Regions from separate parts of the Homo sapiens genome. Here region 1 is linked to region 2. The links come from fine-mapping of genetic effects on gene expression. Tissue or cell type: lung. Region 2 holds a variant in brackets; the other region holds the start of a gene. All regions are shown on one strand. Distances are between the middles of the regions.

Evidence for each region. PIP is the estimated chance that this variant, and not a neighbour inherited with it, causes the effect.
Region 1: ACSM5 starts here. The variant in region 2 is fine-mapped to the expression of ACSM5 in lung (TOPMed, PIP 0.93).

Annotation. Positions count from the first base shown.
Region 1 is chr16:20,404,917-20,413,102 of GRCh38, reverse strand. ACSM5 (acyl-CoA synthetase medium chain family member 5) reads right to left here and starts at 3,569. Exons shown (of 14, transcript NM_017888.3): 1 at 3,438-3,569; 2 at 1,415-1,633. The coding sequence starts at 1,618.
Region 2 is chr16:20,468,550-20,476,735 of GRCh38, reverse strand. It overlaps ACSM2A (acyl-CoA synthetase medium chain family member 2A), which reads right to left. Exons shown (of 14, transcript NM_001308172.2): 4 at 7,017-7,224; 5 at 5,520-5,663; 6 at 5,047-5,200; 7 at 1,295-1,374; 8 at 963-1,086. Among named protein-coding and RNA genes, the nearest start is that of ACSM2A, 21 kb to the right of the region's middle. The variant AACAC/C (reference allele first, on the strand shown) is at 4,671.

The DNA.
Region 1 (8,186 bases), 64 kb after region 2:
CTCACTATTACTCTAAGTAGCATATGGTCTGACTACCATTTTACAGATGAGAAAGTTGAGATCTAAAGAACTTAGGGCACTTGTCCAAGGTCACACTTCAAGTACACGGATGAACAATGTCTATCTGACTGCAAATCCTGCTTTTAAGTCTCAGTCATCCTCATACCACCTTCATAAGTTTCACTACATCTGCTGACAGTTAATTTTATTGTATCTACTAACAATGCCATTTACTTCATATTTTTTCTTTAAACAATCTCTTCTTATAATTAACATGAATACAATTCTTTGAATTAAATTTTATATTTCCAGTTTTGTATTCTCCAGCTTTTCTTTTTTCACTTTTTGGTGAATCTATTGTTTGTGCCTACTGTTATCCACCACCTTAGGCAACAATGAAGTTAAACATTTGTCCGTAATTGTTTTGGACAAAAACCCCTAGGGAAAAGGCTTTTCTCATTGGTTAAGCTTCACATTGGTTGAAATACAGTTTTAGAAGTATGTCTTCCTCTTATAAATGAAAAGTTAGTATCATGTAACACAAATAAAAGGTAACCATGAAATAGAGAGACCCAACAGACACAGATATAAGGGAAAATAAAGAAGAAAGCAGATGCACAGAGACACACAAAGAAATCAGGGTTATCTTATTCAATTCTATGTATCTGTTATGATCTGCAAAAAGCTTTGAGCCTGAGCCCTATTCTTTCCTTATTTTATTTTGTTTTGTTGTATTTTATTTTATTTTTTGAGGTGGAGTCTCACTCTGTTGTCTAGGCTGGAGTGCAGTGGCATGATCTTGGCTCACTGCAACCTCTGCCTCCCGAGTTCAAGCAATTCTCATGCTTCAGCCTCCAAAGTAGCTGGGACTACAGGTGTGCGCCACCATGCCTGGGTAATTTTTTTTTATTTTATTTTTAGTAGAGACGGAGTTTCACCATGTTGGTGAGGGTGGTCTCGAACTCCTGACCTCAGGTGATCTGCCCTTCTCGGTGTCCCAAAGTGCTGGGATTATGGTCATGAGCCACCGCGCCCGGCCTTCTTTCCTTATTTAGAAGAGAAGGGCGTGACAGTGAGAGAAAAACATCAAAGACAGAGTAGCAGCAAAACAAAACTTCCTCCTTCAGTTGATGAACAACTGGAAGGGAATCGGAAGGGACATAACTGTCTCACTGTGTGATTTGGGCTCAAGAATGCAGGACACTTCAGAGAAGGAACAAGCATGTCTAAGGCTCACAACACTGACTCAGAATTTTTTCCTAAGTCTCAAATGCCAACAGTTTACATTTTAGAACTAGCAAAATTCCCAGGTCCAAATTTCCTCATCAACATGCTTGGAGCCTTGAGTCTCATTGTGGTACATGAGGGCAGCCTCAGATGCCCCAGATGGACTCTAGGACAGAACAGGCTTCACCTCTTCCAGCCGACTCCACACATCCAGCACATCATGGGCGAAGTTGAAGTACTCAGGCACCAGCTGCCTTCCCAGGCTGATGGCTTCCCAGGTGGCCACGATCTTCTGAGGAACAGGTAGAGGTGCTGGCTTCCCATGAGACCCACAGAATGCCCTGGAGTTCCTCAGTGCCTGGAGGACTAGGTGTCTCAGCCATGGTCTCATGCAGTCGCCTCCTGTCTGTCACCAAAGAGAGGAAAGAGGGCATTGTCATAAATTCTGGGCTTTGGGGACAACACATAGGTTAGGAGAAACCTGTGGTTAGTGCTGATGGTGACTGTGATCCTTACTGACTTGTAGAATAAACTCTCCACCTTCAGTCTCAGTTCTGCTGTGTGATGGTCATTTCTCTCCTCTGACCCCGAGGTCTGTCCTTTTGACCTCTCACTGACTTGTGGGTATCTGGGTCTGAGGTCAGAACTCAGATCCCACTTCTCAAACCTCAATACTTCAAAAGGAATCCCTCAAAAAGGCTTTGGCCAATCCTGAACTGACCTTGCAAAGCTGAAGACAGCTCTAGGGCAGCACTGTCCAACAGAAATAGAACGTGAGCCACCTGTGCAATTTACAATGTTCTAGTACTTCCATTAAGAAAAGTAGAAGCAGGTGAGATTTATTATAATAAAACATTTTATTTAACCAGATAGAGCCAAAGTATGACCATTTCAATTCCTAGTCAATAGAAGAATAAATTGTTAAAGAGATATTTTACATACTTTTATTTATTTTTTGTTTTTTTTGGTACTAAGTCCTCACAATCTGAAATAGACTTTACCCTTACAAACACATGTCAATTTGGACTAGCCACACTTCAAGTGCTCAAAAGCCACAAGTGGCTGCTGTATGGCATGATGGGCTTTTAGTGTCTTTTTAATTTTTTTATTTAATTTTATTATTTTTAAAATTTTTATTATTGTTGTTTTTGAGACAGAGTCTCACTCTGCTGCCCAGGCTAGAGTACGGTGGTGCCATCATAGCTCACTGCAGCCTCAAACTCAAGCAGTCCTTCCACCCCAGGCTTCCTAGTAGCTGGGACTACAGGCACTAGCCACCATGTGTGGCTAACTTTTAAAAAGTTTTTTTGTAGAAACAGGATCTCACTATGTTGCCCAGGCAGGGCTTGAACCCCTGGCCTCAAGTGATCCTCCCAACTCGGCCTCCCAAGTGCTGGGATTACAGATGTGAGCCACTGTGCCCAGCCCAGTTTTAGTGTCTTGCTACTCAAAGTGTGATCTTGGGACCAGCAGATGGGACCCCACCCTACATATGTAGAATTAGAATCTGCAAGTTAACGGGATCTTCAGATGAGTCATATGCATGTTAAAGTTTGAGAGGCACTGGCCCGGGAGCTGCGTGTGACCTCAGTTTCAGTTTCCTTGCATTAAATTCCTCTTAGTAATAATAATAACAAAATATGGTAATAACAACCAACAATAATAACGTGGCACAACAAGAAAAACCATAACAGCTTCAGTCTATTGAAGGCCTACTGTGTACCAAGCATTTTAAGAGTGCTTAGAGGCATTATTTCATGAAATCTTTATAACAACTCTATGCTGTAAATGTTATTTTCTCCATTTAAAGATAAAGAAAATGAGGCTTAAAGGGGAAAAGTGACTTTCAGGTTTCACTTCCTGGAAAAACATAGGCCCCAGCCTCTGCAGTGGCCACCAGGCCTAGGCCTGCAGCCTCAGAGACTTCCTTTCTCTGACCCACCTCTCCCGCCCCTCACCTCTCCCGCCCCTCACCTCTCCCGCCCCTCACCTCTCCCGCCCCTCACCTCTCCTGAACTGAGCTCTGCCCCAGTCCTTTTCCTCAGTCTCCCACCCCTGGATTCCTCAGCCACCTAAACAGCTGATAATTTAGAATCCCCAGGCCTCCTTCCCATTCCCCGACACCATTTCAGATGTCACTTCTTGATTTAATCAGCAAAGGCCTCAGAGGCAGCTGATACCTTCGTCTGAAAAATTTCTTTCCAAATTACCTTGCTCTTGAACCAAAGTAATGCAAAAGGTCTCTGTTTTCTGCTTCAGCTGAGCAGAGCAGGGCTGAGTGGCTGTAAACACTCAGCTCCCTCAGAAAACAGCCTCCCACAGGGAACTTCAGCCCCAAATGCAGCCAAGAGTGGGCAGAGCCAGAACCCAGCAGCTGACACAGTGGCTTCCAGTGGTCAGGGTGCATTGAGCCAGTGAGAGTGGCCCCCTGCCAAGTTTTCTCAGTACTCACAGTGGCTGGAAGATCAGACCTCAACTGTCGTGCCTGGTGGGTGTGCCCAAACTGGTGGATGTATTCCCTAAAAATTCAAGTCGCCATCTAATCGGAAAAAGCAACAGGAAGATTATGACGGGTTTTTTTTTTTGTTTGTTTGTTTGTTTTGAGACGGAGTCTCCCTCTGTGGCCCAGGCTGGAGTGCAGTGGCGCGATCTTGGCTCACCCCAAGCTCTACCTCCCGGGTTTGCGCCATTCTCCTGCCTCAGGCTCCCGAGTAGCTGGGACTACAGGCGCCCACCACCATGCCCGGCTAATTTTTTGTATTTTTTAGTAGAGACGGGGTTTCACCGTGTTAGCCAGGACGGTCTCGATCTCCTGACCTCGTGATCCGCCCGCCTCGGCCTCCCAAAGTGCTGGGATTATGATGTTTTAACAGAAAAGGTGCAATAGTGATAATAATATAAGTCAGACTTTGTTTCTTTTCTGCTTAGAACCCTCCAGTAGATACAGAGAGAACAGAGGAGTGGTTCCAGGGAACGGCTCTAAGGCATCCCTTTGAAGTCATAGAATTGTTCTAAATTTGGATTGTGGTCATGACTGCAGATCTCTGTAAATTTACTACAAAAAATAGTAATAATAATTGTACACTGCCAAAAGAAGTTTTTTGGGTTTTTTTGTTTGTTTTTGGAGACAGGCTCTTGCTCTGTCGCCCAGGCTGGAGTGCAGTGGCGCAATCTTGGCTCACTGCAACCTCCACCTCCCGGGTTCAAGCGATCCTCCCACCTCAACCTCCCGAGTAGCGGGGAATATAGGCATGCACCACCATGCCTGGCTAATTTTTGTATTTTTTTGGTAGAGATGGGGTTTCAACATGTTGGCCAGGTTGGTCTCAAATTCCTGACCTTAAGTGATCTGCCTGCTTTGGCCTCCCAAAGTGCTGGGATTATAGGTGGGAGCCACTGCACCTGGCCCAAAGGTGGTTTTTCGAAAAAGCTTCCTGCAACTCCCTATCTCACTCACAGTCCAAGCCAAAGTCCTGACGATTGCCGGGTGGGATGGCTCACGCCTGTAATCCCAACACTTTGGGAGGCCAAGGCGGGCGGATCACGAGGTCTGAAGATTGAGACCATCCTGACTAACACGGCGAAACCCTGTCTCTACTAAAAATACAAAAATTAGTCAGGCGTGGTGGCGCCTGTAGTCCCAGCTACTCTGGTGGGCGCCTGTAGTCCCAGCTACTCTGGAGGCTGAGGCAGGAGAATGGCATGAACCTGGGAGGCACAGGTTGCAGTGAGCCGAGATCGTGCCACTGCACTCCAGCCTGGGAGACAGAGTGAGACTCCGTCTCAAAAAAAAAAAAAAAGTCCTGGCAATTGCCTACAGGGCCCCACAGGAATTCCTGTGAGCCTTTCGCCTCAAACCTCCTGTCTCAGTCTGCTCCAGCCATACCGGTCTTTTTGTTGTTTGTTCTCTGAAGTTCTTTTTAAATTATTTTTAATTTTTGTGGGTACATAGTAGGTATATACATTTATGGGTTACATGAGATATTTTGATACAGGCATGCAATGCGTTAGAATCACATCAGGGTAAATGGGGTGTCCATCACCTCAAACATTTATCCTTTGTGTTACAAACAATCCATTTATACTATTGTAGTTATTTTAGGTGTATGGTTACATTATTTTTGAAGATAGTCATCCTATTGTGCTAGGAAATACTAGGCCTTATTCATTCACTCTTACTACTTTTTTGTACCCATTAACCATCCCCACTTCTCCTCCAACTCCCTGCAACACTTTCCAGCCTCTGGTAACCGTCCTTCTACTGTCTCCATGAGTTCATTTGTTTTCCTGTTTAGCTCCCACAGGTAAGCGAGAATGTGCAATGTTTGCTTTCTATGCCTGGCTTACTTCCCTTAATGTAATGACTTCCAGTTCCATCCATGTTGTTGCAAATGACAGGGTTATGGGTGTCCTATAGAGAGGATGCTGAGCCATTAACTGCCTATCTTTGCAGTGATTCAAACTTCACCCTGGATTTTTATCCATCACTGTATGTTGTTCCCCTGTGACTCTGTCTCATTTCCTGGCCTGGCCAGTTTGGCCCATTTCCACGCAGGCAGCTCCTCTCCCTTGCCGCCAAGCTTGGCCACAGGGAACCATCTTATGAGCCCTCAATGTCCATTTGCTCAGCATTCAGTCCTCTACTGCGACCCAGGATACAACCTCATCTCTGAATCTGCAGCCAGATGTAAAGATACAATCTCTACCCTCAGAGGGGTGGACGGACTGTTGAACATTATTTCTCCAGCAGTCTAATCTCAATATCGTTACTCTCAATCAGTACTTTTTAGAAGAATATATAATCATAAGTCATGACAAATGTTTCATAAATGTTCAATGAAAGAACTGGATACACTTTATAGACAATATAATCACAATTTTATTTTTAAAAAGTATATATTAATCCCATACGTAACAAAATATGAATGTTTCTCTAAGTAAGATGATGTATGATTTCAATTAACTCATTTTTTCTGTATGTTCTATGTTTTAGAAATTAAATCCTGTTCTTTTCTAATCAGAAAGAAATTAATGTTATTTTATAAAAAGAAGCTTTAAGCCGGGCACAGTGGCTCACGCCTGTAATCCCAGCACTTTGGGAGGCCGAGGTAGGTGGATCACCTGAGGTCAGGCGTTTGAGACCAGTTTGGCCAAAATGGTGAAACCTCGTCTCTACTAAAAATACAAAAATTAGCCGGCCGTGGTGGTGCATGCCTGTAATCCCAGTTACTCAGGAGGCTGAGGCAGGAGAATTACTTGAACTCAGGAGGCGGAGGTTGCAGTGAGCCAAGATTGCACCACTGCACCCCAGCCTGGGCAAGAGAGCAAGACTCTGTCAAAAAAAAAAAAAGCAGCAGCAGCTTTATCAGTAAATGAGTATCATCATAAAAGTGCCTATGTTATGTCAAGAAACAACTGTGTGCAAGAGTGAAGGAAAATGAATGAAGGACATTTGGGATAATAACCCAAGTGTTTTAGTTTGTGACTAACAGTTGACAAGTGTGAAAGATGTCAAAATAATATATGCCAGACTAGATTGTTGATTTAGGCCTGGGAGAAAAAAGAGTCAAACACATCCCAGGAATTATTTGCAAACACAACATCCAGAAAAGGAATAATTGCCAAGAAAAGTTGAAAGGGACATGATGAGTTCAAATTAAGACATTCAGATATTCAGTGAGTGTGGTTCAACCAAAAAGAGCTTTTCTAATAGGCAGATGGAAAACGGTCTTAATAGTAAATGTAATCAATTGATCAAATCCTGGAGAGTAAATGAGAGAGTAACTTATAAAGGGGTGTATTTGAAGTCATGCATTTAAACAAGCCAACAAAAGTATGGAAGTTAAGTATGGAAAGAGAAGAGTGGGGCCGCATGCCGTGGCTCACGCCTGTAATCCCAGCACTTTGGGAGGCCGAGGCAGGCAGATCATTTGAGGTCAGGAGTTTGAGACCGACCTGGCCAATGTGGTGAAACCCCGTCTCTACTAAAAATACAAAAATTAGCCAGACGTGGTGGTGCATGCCTGTAGTCCCAGCTACTCAGGAGGCTGAGGCAGGAGAACCGCTTGAACCCTGGAGGTGAAGGCTACAGTGAGTGGAGATCGCGCCACTACACTGTCTCAAAGAAAAAGAAAAGAAAGAGAAGAGCAAAGCGCTAGGACTAAAACCCACAGATGTTAAAATTTAGTGAAATGAATGTTAGTCATCTCCATCAGTATTTAATAACAGTTGGGCAGCAGATAGCCAAAGGCTGCAAACTCTGACAGTAATAACGATGCTAATAATATCAACAGCCTTTTCTTTATTCATTCAACAAATATTTACTGAGCACCTATCACCAGGTAAGCAAAGTAAATTATGTGGAGTTTAGAAGAAAATTAATGCTATGAAGGAAAATAAAGCCTGGAAGGAGGATGAGGAACGCCTGAGAGGGGGATGGGGCACTTACAAATTTAAACAAAGTGGCCAGGAAAGGCCCAACTGTGGAAGTGACATTTGGGCAAAGACTGGAACGAGCTAAGGGGTGAACCCTGAGTCCACCTGGGTGAAGAGCCTCCCTAACAGGGGAAACCACAAGTGTAGAGGCCCAGACATTGTATTGGAGGACTGGCAGGGACACCAGTGTGGCTGGAGCAGGGTGAGTGGAGATCTTTCTCCCCTAGGAGATGAGGCCAGGGTGGTGATGCGTGAGGGGCTCCTGCCTTCTAGGTACTGAGCTGCTCGTTTTGCATAAATCCTCTTATTTTATCCCATCCCCCTCTCAGGCGTTCCTCATCATCCTTCCAGGTTTTATTTTTCTTCATATCATTAATTATCTTCTAAATTCCACATAATTTACTTTGCTTACAACACCCCCATGAGTTAGATGCCATGTAACAGGCATGGAAACTGAACCTCAGAAAGAGTAAGTGACATTCTCAAGGCCATACAGCTGTTCAAGACAGAGCTGGGATTCAAAT
Region 2 (8,186 bases):
CTGGACAAAAGATATCACAATGACCCATCTTTTCCCGCCACCCACTGTGCTGGAAAGGGCAAGTTTATCCACCCACCTCAGAAGAGAGGCTGCTGAGTGATTAAGATCATGGGAACCTGAGTGTCCTTGTAAGCATATCCTAAACATGTCCTCCTCTGAATGGTGGGAGGCCCCTGCCAGGGTATGCTTGCCACAACTCCATTGTCCTTATTCATATTTGCAGAGCTCTTCCTGGCTCTTTCATACCACAGAGCTGCCGTCAACCTTCTGCAAAAGTTCTTCCAAGGGTACTCATTAGCCAAAGAAGGATGCAGGGTAAGAGAGTGGAGAGGAAGAGGCAAGAAGTGCTGAGAGTCACAAGTAAGAGGCACTGGAAAAAGGAGAAGAAGAGTTGGGGAAAAGTATTCCCCATGTAGTTTTGATAAGTAAAATAGTATAGAATAGCATAAATCCACATTGTGCACATGAGACCTCAAGAGTTCCAAGAAGATATGTCAGGAGGTGCAGTAAAGTCATGGTGGGTTCTTCTTCCCATTCCTCACTTCAGTCTAAGTAGCTTTGTACAGTGCTTGACATGTTTGATAAACTTTGGTCTCTGCTAAAATGTTTCCCCATCACAGAGGAATTTTCTGACTACCATATCTGATTTACCAACTTCTCACCCCATGTCATCTACTTTACTTTTTCCATCGCATTTCTCACCACCTGCCATGCTAGATATTTCTTAGTTTATTTTCTCTCTCCCCAAATCTCACTGGAATGTAATCTCCCAGAAAACAGGAACTTTGCCTTTTTTGTTCTGTGCGGAATTTTCAATACTCAGTACCTGTCCCTTCATAGAGGCTCAATAAATACTTCTCGAATAGATGAATGATACATGGTGGCTAACAATTTTTATTGTCAAAGAGAATTTTGAAGCCCAAAAAGTGCACACAGCCCATGGTTCCCCTGGGAACAGGTACCGTTTCTGTCTGGCCATAGGATTCTCGGATGTCCAGTCCTGTCTGGGCCCTCCAGTTCTCCAGAGTTTCTGGAAGAAGGGACTCCCCTACAGTGACGCAGTTCTGTAGATGGGGGAACTTGTAACTGAAGAAGAGAAATAAATGTTTGCCCTCAGCCTCCCTGGAACCAAAGTCCACTCAGGCCTAGACTGGGTTTCTGGGTGCTTTGATGATGCAAATGGCTTCATGGGGCTCTCTGTGTGCGAGAGATTCAGATAGATAGGCATGAATGTATGTGAGGGAGTCAGGGGGATGGGGCCAGACTCTCTTACCAATCCTCAAAGCCCCATCACCTGGAAAGATCCTGCTGTAGCAACATCCGGTAAACAATGGGGGCACCCATCATACTCTTGATTGGATAACTGGAGAGTGTCTGGAAGACAAGAGCCAGGTGAGACATTGGTCACCAGGTCAAATGCCAACTTATGGCTATGCACAGTGGTTACAATTGTGAGCTATGGAGTTGTAGAGGTCTGGATGAAAACCCTAGCTTGTTTACTATGTCTGATTCAGGTTAAATGAGCCCCACAACTCTCATGCACCCTGAAGACACAAATAACAGGGAAATGAATACATATTATTGTAGTGAAAAAGTCTAAGGCTAATTTGAAACATTTTTGTCAAATCCTGGATGTCTGTTCCTGCCAGTTTAAGACTTGCCCTCGTTAACACACCCCTAGGAGTAGATCACCCCCCAGCAACTAAGGGAAGATCAGCTGCCTGAGCACAGCAGCTGTCTTGGTTAAGTTCCTTAACTTTCTGTAGCCAGCTTTATAATAGATTGTTTCCAGCCTTATTTTCCTGAAAATATTTTTGGAATATATTTTAGATATAAAAGTTCTTTGAAAAGCTAAAGACATCTATAGACATTTCAAAACAAGTGCTGCAAAAAGACCTAGTACTGAATACTTGCCATGTCCTGTGTTATCTCATTTAATTTTTACAATAACCTCACGGAGTGTGTGCTATCATCCTCATGATACAGAGGGGAAACCCATGATGTACAAGGTTAAGTAGCTGCTCCAAGGTCACCTAGTCAGCAAGTAGTGGGATCATTATTTGCAGCATGTATTCCTGTCGTATAACACCATCTCCATCCCATGCTTTTCTTTATGCAGAATGTAATAGAGTATTGTCTTAATCTGTTTTCTTTTGCTGTAACTGAGTACCGGAGACTGAGTAATTTATGAAGAAAATAAATTTATTTCTTGCAGTTCTAGGGGCTGGAAAGTCCAAGGTCAAGAAGCTGCATCTGGTGAGAGCCTTCTTGCTGTTGGGGACTCCGCAGAGTCCCAAGGAGGGTCGGGGCATCACATTGTAAAGGGGCTCACGAGGTAGAGCAAAACTGGCTTTTTATATAACAGACCCACTCTCCAAAACTAACCCACTAACAGGATAACCCATTAATCCATTAATCCCTCATGAGGCCCAATCATCTCTTAAATGCCCCACCGCTTACTACTGTTACACTGGGGATTGAGTTTGTTGATGAAAGGAGCCAAACTCTGTAAAACATTTGAAGAGATTTATTCTGAGCCAAACATGAGTGACCATGGCCATGACAGAGCCCTCAGGATGTCCTGAGAACACGTGCCCAAATTGGTCAGGGTGCACCTTGGTTTTATACATTTTAGGGAGACATAAGACATCAATCAAACACATTTAAAAAATACATTGGTTTGGTCCAGAAAGGTGGGGCAACTTGAAGCGGGGGCTTCCAGCTTATAGGTAGATTTAAATTTTTCTGGTTGACAATTGGTTGAGTTTATCTAAAGACCTGGGATCAATAGAAAGGAATGCCTTAGTTAAGATAAATAATTGTGGAGACCCAAGTTCTTATTTGCAGAGGAAGCTTTTAGGTACTGGCACTAGGCTTTAGACAGAACAGGTTGTAATCTTTTTTTTTTAATCAGACTTAAAGTCTGTATTGATGTTAATACCAGAGAGGTATAATGAGGCATGTCCCACTCCCACTTCCTATCATGGCCTGAAACAGTCTCTCAGGTTAAATTTTAAAAGAACCCTGGCTAAGGAGGAAGTCCATTCAGATGGCTGGCGGGATGGGGCCTTAGGATTTTATTTTTGGTTTACAAGTTTCATCATGAGTTTTGGGGGGCACAAATATTCAAACCATGGCAATGGTTTAAGCAAAAGGTCTAGAAAAAATGACAAATGTGAGTATCATGCAATAATTTCCTTCAAGTGTGCTTGATACACAGATATAAGCTATGAAAATGATCCCATATTCCTTATTGCTTTGCCTTACTAGAAGCTCAGCTTGTAACTACATACTCATTTGCTATATTTCTCCTTAATTTCCTTAGTCTTTTCCACCCTACACCTCCAACCTAAATTTTCCCAATGGGCTTTATAATTTTATGTCTGTTTTCATTTTTTTAATGGTGGAACTTAATAAAAACCAGTTCAAGTCCTTTTGAGAAGGACACAGAGTAAGAATTTGCTTAAAACAGAGAATGACAGTATTATTTGAAGATAATTTCCTATGAAAATCCAGATCACACCTGACTTTTTGACTTTTGAAGATGTCATCTATGCCTTAGCTTGAACCTTTGCTGCAGCCAAATAGATGTCTGGATGGGCCATTAGAGATCTGGGGGCACAGCAGGGAAATAACCCAATCCCTCTATCATAGAGTCCAACATAGGGTGTATCTTCATAAGCAAAATGAGGTCATTTTCATTGCTTTGTTGCTACAGGATAATGCATAGCTGCAGTCTGTGGGTCTTACTTAATGGCTGTACCATCAAGTTCTACAGGAAAAAATTCCATTTATTCTTCTGAATTGCTTCTAGAAAACCATCTTAAATTGGAAATAACCCAAAGTTCATTAACAATAGGATGGGGGAACATTTTTACAGATTCACATAATGAAATACTTTGCAGCCAGCTAAAACAACAAACATCTGATACATGCAACACGTGGACTAATCTCACAGAGAATATTTTGAGTAAAAGAAGCCAAATGCAAAAGATTACATATAATTTGGCTCCATTTACATGAAATTCCAAGAAGAGATAAAATTAATCTATGGTGATAGGTATCAAATGAATGATTAACTTATGGGGGGCAGATGCTGTCAGAGAAGGGGTATGAACACCTTCTGCAGTGGTGGGAATGTTTCATGTCTTTATCTGGTGGTGTTTACAGGGGTGTCTGATATGAATTGGATGTTGTGTCCCCACCTAAATCCCTATATTAAAGCTCTAACCCTCAACTTGATGGTATTTGGAGGCAGGGCTTTTAGGGGTAATTATGCAAGGTAATGAAGCAGGTGCCCCAGTGATAGCATGAGTGCCTTTATTTGTAAAAAGGAAGATATACCAGCACTGTCTCTCTCAACCATGTGAGAATATAGCAGTAAGGGAGCCATCAGCAAGCCAGGAAGAGAGGGCTTCCCCAGGAATCCAATTATGCTGGCACCCTGATCTCAGACTTACAGCCTCCAGAGCTATGAGAAGTAAATGTCTGTTATTTAAGCCACCTAGACTATGGTATTTTATTATAGTAGCCCAAGCTGACTAAGACAGTATCTAACACAGCTAAATTATTTTCAAACTGTACACATAGGATGGTGGCACTCTGTGTACTTTACCTTCAGTTTGTGTGTTATGCTGCAAATAAAAAAGGAAATGAAATGTGCACTCACA[AACAC/C]ACACACACACTCATGAGAGCGAGATGGCATCCCCTCCAATACTCCAGCTTTCCCTTTTACACGTGGTTCACCAGCATCTATCTGATAGGTGACACCAGCGGAAGAGCCCGTTACATTTGTTGAGTGAACAAATGACCTACAATATCTTTCTCCTGAACATACTCCTTTTATCTATATATGTGCCTCTCTCCTACCCCAGAACATGAGCTCTGTGAGGTCAGGGACCATTTCCATCTCGTTTACTGAACACTGTTCACCACATGGCAGGGGTTTAGCAAAAATTAGATGAATTGAAACAAACTACAATAAATTGAAGTGTGCAAACCTCGGGCTCACTCTGAATAACTGCTGCAAACTGGATCCTCTCTTACCTTTAGAATAACCAGTGGGTCAAACTTTGGCAAGAGATGAACAAATGTGCATGCTCCTAATGCCCAAGGTTCCATAAGTGAGCACAAGATGTTCAGTATCCAACCTGTGTCTGATATGGTCCACATTATATCAGAGGCTTGCAGGCCTGTCCAACTGAAAACACAGACAAAACACATGTACATATAGGTGGGTGCATGCTTAGGATGCGTGGGACACTAAGGTGTAGGGGAGGAAAGGGAGGTGTGTGTGCAGAGGTGTGTGTGTATCTGCCTGCAGGTTTATAGGCATATGTCTATGTATAAGTAGGAAGGGGGAAGAAAAGTTGTTCTATCCACACATCCTGTATCAACAGGAGATGAATGTTCAGAAGGTGGGACCCCGGTTGACCTGACTTAATATATAATTGGGTCTCATTCTCCTTCTAACTCCAAAACTCATGTAATTCTCTGTAGAGAGAAAGAGCTCAGCTTACCCAGCATCCATCTTGGCCTTGAGGCCCAGGCTCGAGTAGGAATGTTCTGCCATCTTGGGAAGACCACTGGTCCCACTAGTGAAGTAGATGGCAGATGCTTCCTGGCTTCCAGTCTCCACACAGTGATGAGTGGTGGATGCCTCACTGACAGAGACACAGATTGTCATTTTTTCAGAGCTAGACTGGACACCAGATATCAAAGTGACCCATCTTTTCCCACCACCCACTGTGCTGAAAAGGGCAAGTTGATGGACCCACCTCACAAGAGAGGCTGCTGAGTGATTAAGATCATGGGAGTCTGAGTCAATCAGAGTTGGGTTTGAAAACTACTGAAGTTTCACACTTTGTTATCAATGCAACCTTAAACTACTTATTTAACGTCTCTGTGTCTGACTTTATATCTGCAAAAAAAGTGAGATCAAGTCTTATAGAGTTATCTCTACCACCAAAGAAATGAGCAAATTGCTTAGTAAGAACTCAATAAATGCTAATCTAATTGTTGTGAAGAGCTCTGGCATGACACCAAGTGGACAGGAGGGGTGGAATTAATACAAGTTTTCCAAGTACTTTCTTGGCATTCTCTTCTATTCCCTGGAAGCACCTACATATCTCTTGGACATCTCCAGTGTCCTGATTTTGAGCCTTTAAAAGCAGGCATGATGGTGTTTATTTCCATGACAGCTACCTTAAAGACCATGGCATTAGAAAGGAAAAGCTGAAGTTATCCCTTCAAGTTTCCTATCATATGTGCCCCTGCTAGAGGGATTTCAGACATGTTGACAGAGAAAATCATTAATCCAGCCAGTCTTGCTATCGGCTTTTGGAAGGACTATCAAGGTCTTTCCATGCTATCAACACATGGAAAGTCCTCTGCCCTTGATCAGCCTCTCTTAGAGATACAAGAGGTGGAAAGAAGAGCCCAGAAACTTGGTATATCAGCCATCTCTTGGGTTTTCCCTCATGACCTTGGCCTCACCCCTGATTTGAGTCATAGTTCCAGTAAATTGTTCTGGGTGGGTTTCAACCCACTTGGTGTTAACATCATGTTGTTTCCAGTGTGCATCACAAGTGATTCACTTTGTGCCCCATAGTTTCTCTGTTTTACCATAGCATGGAACTCTGAGCCACTCTTCACGCATGAGTGCGCAGCCCAGAAGTGTGGAGGCAATAACACCCCCAGGACAACCCTGAACCTGTGGGGACCAGATGCTAATGGATCAGTGCTTTTCAATCCTTTAGAGGACAATCCTGGGAGGCATTCTATATGCTGCTCAGAAGGTCCAGGCAGATCAAGCCCCATTTAGTCCTTGCAATGATTTGAAAAAAAAAAAAAAAAAAAAAAAATACCCTTGTGTTAGCTTTTATTTCTTCCCAGCTTCACTCTTCCTAGTCCCATGCTGTTCTTTCTGCACCTCCTCAATAAAGCACCTGCACCTAAGTGCTTGGCTCTGTTTCCAGTTTTAGTTAAAACCCAGGCTGAGACATGTAGATACTCACTTTAGTAGTTTCTTGAAGTTCAGCCACCCATCACAGCTTTTCTCAGACACCAGTAGCTTAATTCTCAGAGAAGGACATTCAGATGCCACTGTGTCCACTTCTTGGATGACTTCATCCCCAGCAACAATAGCCTTGGCCTTAGACATCTGCAACCTATACAGTATGTCAGTGGATTTCATCTGGATGGTTCCAGGCATAAAGATGAGACCTAAAGAAGCCAACAATTTAGAGAATTGGAAAGGATGATTTTCTTTGTCCCTAGAGAAGCCTGAGATAAACATCAAGCAGCGAGCAAGTGGGGAAGGAGAGGATGAGGAAGTAATGACCAATAGAGAGTGTCAATAAAAAAGGGAACTAAGGACAAGGGAGTGAATGAAACCTAGGATTCCCTGGGTTGTCAGAGTCTTAAGGGCCCTACTGAGACAAAGAAAAGAAATTGAATTGCTAATGTCACATTGTTGATAGTCTAAGACACATACAATTCTCCTCACCCACTCTCACCCCTCAAAAAAAATTTTCTACAGGAGTTTGCTGTATTCAAAACTCTCATATGATAATTAAAGAATCATGAGGAAAGGCACTTGGAACTGTCCATGGTCTTGAAACACCAATAGCTCTAGGTCCTGGCAATTTATTTCATCCCTGGGACATTAAATGCATTTTTCTTAGATGAGAGTGCCTTCAGTTTTACATATCTATGTACACACAAAGTATAGTTGTATATATTTATTGGGTACAAAGTGGTATTATAATTTTTGAAGACAATGTGAGATGATTAAATTAAGCTAATTCACATATCCATCACCTCAAGTATTTAACATTTTTTTGTGATGAGAACATTAGAAAGTTTTGCTCTTAATGATACTGAAATTTACAGTACTGAATTATTAGCTGTGTTTAGCATGCTGTACAATTTATCTTAAAACATTAGACTTATTCCTTGCACATAAATGAGGTTTTATACCCCATGATTATCACTTTCCTAAATTCTTGTTCTTGTTTCCTATTTTAATGAGACTCCTTTGATTATTAAAATATTCTGTAGAATAACTAGACTTAGGGCCAGGTATGGTGGCTCATGCCTGTAATCCTAGCATTTTGGGAGGCCAAGGAGGGTGGATTATTAGAGGTCAAGAGTTCAAGACCAGCCTGGCCAACATGGCGAAACCC